2 linked regions of the Homo sapiens genome follow. The protein of the gene in region 2 interacts with the protein of the main gene of each other region in a biochemical or structural test. Each region holds a gene or a part of one and is shown on either strand. Other genes may lie near its edges.

Region 1 (3,815 bases), about 57 Mb from region 2:
AAGTAAACTAAGAAAAGAGTACACTACACTCCTTAACTGGAGTCACTGATGCTGAAAACGGTAAACGAATGCAAAGACGTGAACAGTCTCGCACAGCAGAATACGCGGCTATTCCCAGAGCCACATACCACACCTGTTTTTTTTCTTCTTTCTGCATTTCCCAAGAGTTTACGACATGCTTCTGGTGAAGGTCCAGCTCCATCTGAGGATGGAAGGGGGACGATGTGAATTTCCTCACCAGACAGATGGGCACTGTGGGGACAGTGTGCTCCTGCCCTCTGTGCCACCTGCGGGAACGTGGCCATGACTTCGCTTCATGGGGACTCAGTGGCACAGGCGTCTAGTAGAGAGCGTGGGGTGACTTCAACATGTATAGTGTGAATGCATGTCAATCAGAAGACCAAAGGACCAGGCACTCCTACACCAATCTTTTGAGCTGGTACAAAGTAACAGAGACTTCCCTCCCACTAGCCCTAGGGTTGGGCTGGACGCTGAAATGGAAATACAATTTCAAAGGCCACCTTGGGTTGATGTACTGCATGCCAGGCCCTGGGAGACAGCTGAGTGAGAAGACTCAACCCTGTGCCTGGCTCCCCGAAGTTTCCTCTGCAAAGCAGATGGACTACGTACTCCCTGTATCAAGTGATGCACCAGTAGGTGCAACAAGTTTAGCATTGTTAGTAAGAGATTTGAGCGCAGACAATCTCCTGGATTAGAAAATGGATCACAACATTCAATCCAAATCTTTTGTTTGGGAAACTGTTTATAAAATTAGCTGGATATGGTGGCGCCCACCTGTAGTCTCAGCTACTCGGGAGGCTGAGGTGGGAGGATCACTTGAGCCCAGGTTTGAGACCAGCCTGAGCAACACAGGGAGACCCTGTCTCTATAAAAAAGTTTTAAAATAATCTTTCCCAACTTACAGCTGTGAACATAGGCAATTAACTTGAATGTTCTGAATAAACTTTTCTGATTTAACGGCTCTGGATGATTCCACCGAAGCCAACAGGGCTAAGGAGTCCTCCCACAGATTAGTGCAAACTGCACAAAAGCACCAGATGTTCCATTATTTAGTGCCTGGCGATTTCTAAATGTAACTACGAATAACACGAAGGCACCAAATGTATACAAAAACTGTAAGTTGAAAATAAATGAATAACAGTGAGGGATGATCTCCCTGCAGCCAAATCTCCACTGAACAAGGCCACCAAGCCAAGAGGCCACCCCCTCCCCTGCCAGCCCAGTTCAGGCCTTCACCAACCCCCGGCTGGGCTGTCGCAGCACCCCTCCCTGTCGGCGGGCACATTGCTACCAGAGGAGTCTCTCTGAAATGCAGCTGGGATCCTGTATGCTGCCCCCAGCCCCTTTGGAGGAAGGTCACACAAGCTCTTCCGATGTCTGGCACCCTCTGCCTCGCCAGCGTCATTTCTTGGGGTTCTCCCTCACTATCTGACATCCTAGCCTCACCCAGACACTTTCAGCTCCCAGGGCTCGCTCTGTTCTCGAGTCTCAAGCCTGGTTCTCACAGTCACATCAACCTAGAACATCCTTTCCTCACCTCTACACACATACATCCCTTCAAACTCTTCCACCCCAGGAACTCCTCTGGGAAGCCTCCCCAACCCCTCCAGAGTTGAGTGCGCTGGCCCATGCTCATCCTCTCAGGCTGGCCCAGCACCCTGCATCCTGCCCTGTAATGAGCTCCCATGCTGGACACAAGCTAATGAGCAGAAACCATGTCTAATCTCCATGCCCGCACCTGGCAGACCAGGCAGCGGAGGTTCAATCAACATTTGTTCAACAACCGAATGAGCCGCTCAGCGCAGCCTGTGCCAGATCTTCTGCCTGGCGCTCTTTTCAGGTGGCTCAAGGTTCCCTCCTCTGTTTCAACCCGGTACAAGATACGTGTTCAAAAAAAAAAGTGTCTGGAAACATGATTTCATCTACTTAGATAAATCAATGGAGATCTCTGATTTTCACCTCTCGAAGTTTCGGGTTGTTCTTTTTCCAGTGTTCGTACAAAAGTTGTTCAGCAATCTATCAAGAAAACACAAAATGGAAAGCCTGATGTCATTTTTCAAATCCATTCACATTTTGGATGACACACAGTGGAAGTCAGCTCAGGCTATGAGTGCCTCCCTTCACACCGTCACTGCAACCACTGTTCAAACCCTCATGCTTCACATGCACAGCTCTGAGAACCACATGGCACTACCAAGTGACTCTTGCAATGATGACAAAAGGGGGCCAAAATCTGATGCTACACAGAGGTCCTATCTAGGGGGTCTCAAAATAATACAGCAGGCTGAAAAGCACAGATTAGGGCTCACTGTTTCACATAACTACTTTGGAAGGTAAAACAGACTAGTCCCAGATCTCTGTGGACCCACAGAACTGGAAGAAAGGAAAAGCACTCAGATGTAATGATTGAAGGGGCTAAAGAGACTACAGCTAACTGATCCAAAACCCAGTCCCTGCACAAGGACCTAAGCTCTTTTCCTGCTGGCTCTGGAGTTAACTGGCATCTCATCAGACCTGAGCACCCAGGAATGACCCTACATGTGCGACACACTCAGGCTGGGAACACTCCTGCTCCACAGCCTCCTGAAGCCCTCTGGGGAGTTACCAGTTTCCTCTGCTCTTCTTTGGCTGATTTCAGCTTCCCGTGCTGCTCCCGGATTCTTCTTTCCTGCAAGTTCATGCTCAGCCTCAGCTCCTCCAGTTCTCTGGCCAGCAGGTCCTGCTCCTCCTGCATGAGCTGCCTGAGCTTTTCCCGTCGGGCCTCCAGACTCCTCCTCTTCTCCTCCTTCATCTTCTCCCGCTGATAGGCATGCATGCTGGGTGAGAGGGGGCCTGCCTGAATCAATCATGCTACAGCCACAGGGAACGTGCTCTGCTCTGCTGTGTCGGTAAAAGAGGCTGAGGTAGATGTGTCATGACGACACAGGAATGTGTCCCCAGCCAAAGCAGAGACAGCAGGTCACAGAATAGTATGTGTAAGAGAAAATCTTGTTTTTTGCAAAAAGAAAATGTATAAATGTATAAATAATGTATATATTATCCATCACATAAATCCTACAGCATAGGTCTGCTGTAGCCCCACTTGATTGATGAGGAAACCAAAGCTCATACATTCAGCAAGAGACACGGTCAGGATTTCCATCTAGGTCTGACTTCAAAGCCTATGCTTTTGGCCTCCATGTTTTTACACGTATTTCTATAAAAGTAGCTTTGTGTGTGTATATTTAAGCACAAATACCAGTGGGAAACAGCATGGAAGGATATGTGCCAGACTGTTAACTGTGGCTGTCTCTGGGGATATGGGGTTACAACCAGGCTTCCAAATTCTATCATATGCTTCTGCATCATTTTATCTTTTTCAATGCCAATGTATGGCTGCACTGATGATCTTTTTTTCCATTTCCAGCTGGAAAAACATCACCATGCAGGTAATTCATACTGCCTGGCAAATCCTACGCTCCCTAAATCCTTAAGGCCTCATCCCCTGACCAGCAAGTGGTCCCCACTTCCATCCAATCGGCAGTTACCGCACAATTACCTCCGCTGGTAGGAGGTTTTAGAGCTCCATTCTGCCTGTTTGGAGCTGCAGATGTCAGACATCCTGAAGTAACGGCTGTTCTGCTCCCACTGCTGCCGAAGCCGGGCCTCCTGCTCTCGCTGTCGTGCTAGCTGCTGATTCAGGCGCTGCTGGCTGCACCAGTAGGACGGCAGCGTCGGGAGCGCCATCTGAGAACAGGAATGGGAGGAAAGTGAGCCACTGCAAATCCCAGGAACCCTCACCAGCTTGGCCTCAT
Region 2 (3,897 bases):
AAAGAGAAGAATAGGACCATCTCTTCTGAGCAACATGGATTTGGTTTCTTTGGATCTCTATCAGAGCCTTAGGCTTGCTATCTGTGGATCTCTAACAGAGCCTTCTCCTATGAGAAGGAGGACATTTTTTTCTTCTACTGTCTTCACTCTTCAAGGAATAAGCATCTGAGTTTTGGCCTGAGTCTTTGAGCTCTTAATTTGACCAACTCGAATGTCTCCAACTTTTCCCTGTTGTGAAGATTCTTGTGATGCACATCTGTGTGCATACACCTTTCTGAATTTGTTCTATTTCCTCAGGATATATTTCTAGAAGTATAATTACGGTTCAGTGTATGCACATTTTAATTGTGCTTGATACATGTTGTCAGGCAAGTTTCTTGCTTATGAGGGCAATTATAATGATTAATCACATATCTGATTCTTTTGTCAAATAACTTGCTCTAGTTGGCCGAGAATATGTTTCTTAACTGGACAATTAGGCTGAGCCCTGGCGTAAGGGGAAAAGTGGTCCTGGAAACCAAGGCAGAGGGAATGGGATGCTAGTTCCTGGTATGGTCAGTTAAAACGGAGTGGACAATGCTGGTGGACCAGATGCCTCCCACTCCATTTGCCAAAAGTTCATATGGAATTTGATCTAGAAATACACTCTGAATGTCATGATACCAAGCTGAAGTTTGATGAACCTCTCTAAAGGAGGGGAGTTATGTGTATAAAGAATAGATTATCTTTTAAAAACAACTATTCACTTATCAGATAAAAAAGTTTAAGCCCAAAACTTTGGCCCCAAAGCAAGGCAAAGTAAAAGAATATATTGTATTATAAATCTGCTTTATTTAGCAATTGCAAACAGCGAAGAGCACAGAAATCATCACAGAGATACAGGCTTTGTACATCATAGGACTAGTCACTTGTGCTTTCATGGATACTGCCTGGGTGGGGGTTCACAACACTTATAAGTTAGAGAGTTTGAGAGCCAGTGGAAAGTAAGTGGAAGTTGTTCTGAAATAAGCCCCTGGCAATTTTCTGCAATGAAAAGGAGCAGAGGTCATTTTCTTATAATGCTCAGCCTCAGAGATAGAACACTGGAGGCAAGAAATTAATAATTTAGTAACAGTGAAGCTCCAGTGGTGATTACATCATGATGTAAAATCAGAGGTTGATCTGATGGTGAGCAATGGGTGCTCAGATGGTATAGAGAGAGAGAGAAGAAGTGAGGGCACTAAGCATCCATACCCAGCTCTACCTGGGACAGCAGGGGAGACTGGAGGCCAGGAGAGGAAAGGCAACCTGAGGAGAGGGCTCTGCAGCCAGAGAGGGGCCTGAGGACTGTGGGACCGAGAGCTAGCAGACGCACTTTAGTGCTTATAGCTCTTCCTGCTGGAGGAGGAGGTGGTGGTGTACTTGATGGTGGAACTGCCGCCTCCAACAGAGCTGAGGCCACCCCCAATGGCTCTGCCACTGCTGGAACTGAAGCCACCTCCAACGCCAAGACCACTGCCATAGGAGTAGCTGCTTCCTCCACCCAGGCCTAAGCCACTGCCGACACCACTGGCACCGCCATAGCCACTGGAGACGGTGGACTGCACCACAGCTGTGATGGGGAGGGGACAAGGACACAAGAAGCCATGGTGAGCTCATCCTGTCAGCCTGAGCCCAGTCAGAAGAGTGCGAGGGCAGGGGAGGAAGGCAAGCAAAGGTACTTACAGATGTTGACTTGTCCAACGCCTTCGCCATTCAGCCTGTGGAGAGGAACACAGGGAGGGTGAGACCTCAGAGAGCTCTTCCTTCCCTGGACCAGCGTGGGCAGCCTCGGTGGGTGGAAGAGTCCATGGGAAACTGCTCTTTTAGTTTTCTCTCAGGAAGAGCAATTATGGCCATGGGCAGTGCACCTTAAAGTTGTGCTCAGTGCCAGGAACCTTGAAGATGGACTCAGCTGTTGAAGGAGTTCGTGTCAGTTACCCACCTGCACTCCTCACCCTCCAGCAGCTTGCGGTAGGTGGCGATCTCCACGTCCAGGGCCAGCTTGACATTCATCAGCTCCTGGTACTCCTTCAGCAGCCGGGCCAGGTCCTGCTTGGCCTTCTGCAGGGCATCCTCCAGCCCTTCCAGCTTGTTCTTGGCATCCTTGAGGGCCATCTCCCCACGCTGCTCAGCATCAGCAATGGCGGCCTGCAGGTTGGCGCACTGGAAGAGGAAAGGAATAGAAGAAACTTGTCATCCGGTCTTCCAGAGGAGACTAAACCTGGCTGGTTATTTCCTAGTGAAGGGGCCAGGAGCCCAGAATTGATGGTGAATGAGCTCTGACTCTTCCTATCTATTGTTTTTTTTTTTATTTTGCAGTTTTTGTCCAGTCTGGTTCATTTGACAAAAACTCATAACCCTTTTTGTGAACCACTCTGTGGGAGAATGTGGATATTTACTAATGGGAGACACTGCAGTGGACACATACACTGGAAGAAATGTACCTGCTGGTTTGTTTGGAGTGTTGTCTCCACAGTCAAATCAAGACCACTTATGATTACCTCATATAGATGCCACACTAACATACACAAAATTAAGACCATCCTGAAGTGAGGTGATGAGTCTTCACATGAGACTGCTGAGACCTTGCCTTCCTCCCCCTCAGAATCTCTCATCTACTGTTCTTTGTCCTTTGCCCTTCCTCTACTCTCTCTTTCACCTTGAGTCTTGAGCAGATTTGAAACAATGTTCCTTGTGCTTTCTTATCTGCCCTTTTCTTTTTCAATTTGTTCCTTTGCAGTTTCCAAGTCAGTCTTCCTATGGAAATAAATCCAATTCCTCTAGACCAAGCTTGTCCAACCTACAGCCCACAGGCCACATGCAGCCCAGGATGGCTTTAAATGCAGCCCAACACAAATTCTTAAACTTTCTGAATACATTATGAGGGTTTTTTCTTTTTCTTTTTCTTTTTGAGACAGAGTTTTGCTCTGTCACCCAGGCTGGAGTGCAGTGGCGCGGTATCGACTCACTGCAACCTCCACCTCCCAGGCTCAAGCGATTCTCCTGCTTCAGTCTCCTGAGTAGCTGGGACTACAGGCACGCTCCACCATGCCCGGCTAATTTTTATGTATTTTTAATAGAGGCGGCGTTTCACCATGTTGGTCAGGCTTGTCTCTCACTCCTGACCTCATGATCCACTAGCCTCAGCCTCCCAAAGTGCTGGGATTACAGGCATGAGCCACTGGACAAGGCTGTATGTTTTGTTTTGTTTTGTTTTAGCTTATCAGCTATTGTTTGTATTAGTGTATTTTATGTGTGGCCCAAGATAGTTCTTCTTGTTCCACTGTGGTCCAGGGAAGCCAAAATACTGGACACTCCTGCTCTAAACCATGTTTTTGCAGCTCTGAGCATCGTGACTGGTTCTCTCATGTGTTTGTGTCATGCCATAGGTAGGATCTATGTCTCCTAAGCAGCAGGTACCCACTAAGGGTAGGAAATGATAGCCTCCTCTCCCTGGTTTTGATAAGTTCCAGGGGATTTTCCCTAATATAATGGTTGATGGCTGCCTGACGACCTGACAAGGAAATGCTTCTCTCCTCCATTGTCCCTCACCATACCTGCTTCTTGACGTGGTCGATCTCAGATCTCAGCCTCTGGATCATGCGGTTGATCTCAGCAATCTCCTGCTTGGTGTTGCGCAGGTCGTCCCCATGTCTGCCTGCTGTGACCTGCAGCTCCTCGTACTGCAGCCCAGAGGTGGAGAGAGAGACAGTGTCTACGGGTTCTTACCTGGGAGCGATGACTTTCACTTGTGTATCATGCATGTCATGAAGTGGACCTAAAGGCTTCTCCTCAAGAAACTTGAGGAAAAGTTGATATTATGTGGTTGGTGGATACTAAACACTGGAGTCACAGACCATCCTCATTATGGCACCA

What was found.
Region 1: the proteins of KRT6A (region 2) and TCHP form a complex in vitro, tested with the Homo sapiens proteins (one study listed by BioGRID).

Annotation. Positions count from the first base shown.
Region 1 is NC_000012.12:109,902,959-109,906,773, reverse strand, and holds part of TCHP (trichoplein keratin filament-binding protein), read right to left. Parts: intron 3,748-3,815; coding exon 3,560-3,747; intron 2,854-3,559; exon of another isoform or gene 2,838-2,853; coding exon 2,627-2,837; intron 2,038-2,626; coding exon 1,981-2,037; intron 1,946-1,980; exon of another isoform or gene 1,760-1,945; intron 203-1,759; coding exon 134-202; intron 1-133. UniProt on the Homo sapiens protein: Tumor suppressor which has the ability to inhibit cell growth and be pro-apoptotic during cell stress. Inhibits cell growth in bladder and prostate cancer cells by a down-regulation of HSPB1 by inhibiting its phosphorylation.
Region 2 is NC_000012.12:52,486,365-52,490,261, forward strand, and holds the end of KRT6A (keratin, type II cytoskeletal 6A), read right to left. Parts: intron 3,705-3,897; coding exon 3,579-3,704; intron 2,185-3,578; coding exon 1,964-2,184; intron 1,740-1,963; coding exon 1,705-1,739; intron 1,592-1,704; coding exon 1,356-1,591; 3' UTR 812-1,355; downstream 1-811. UniProt on the Homo sapiens protein: Epidermis-specific type I keratin involved in wound healing. Involved in the activation of follicular keratinocytes after wounding, while it does not play a major role in keratinocyte proliferation or migration.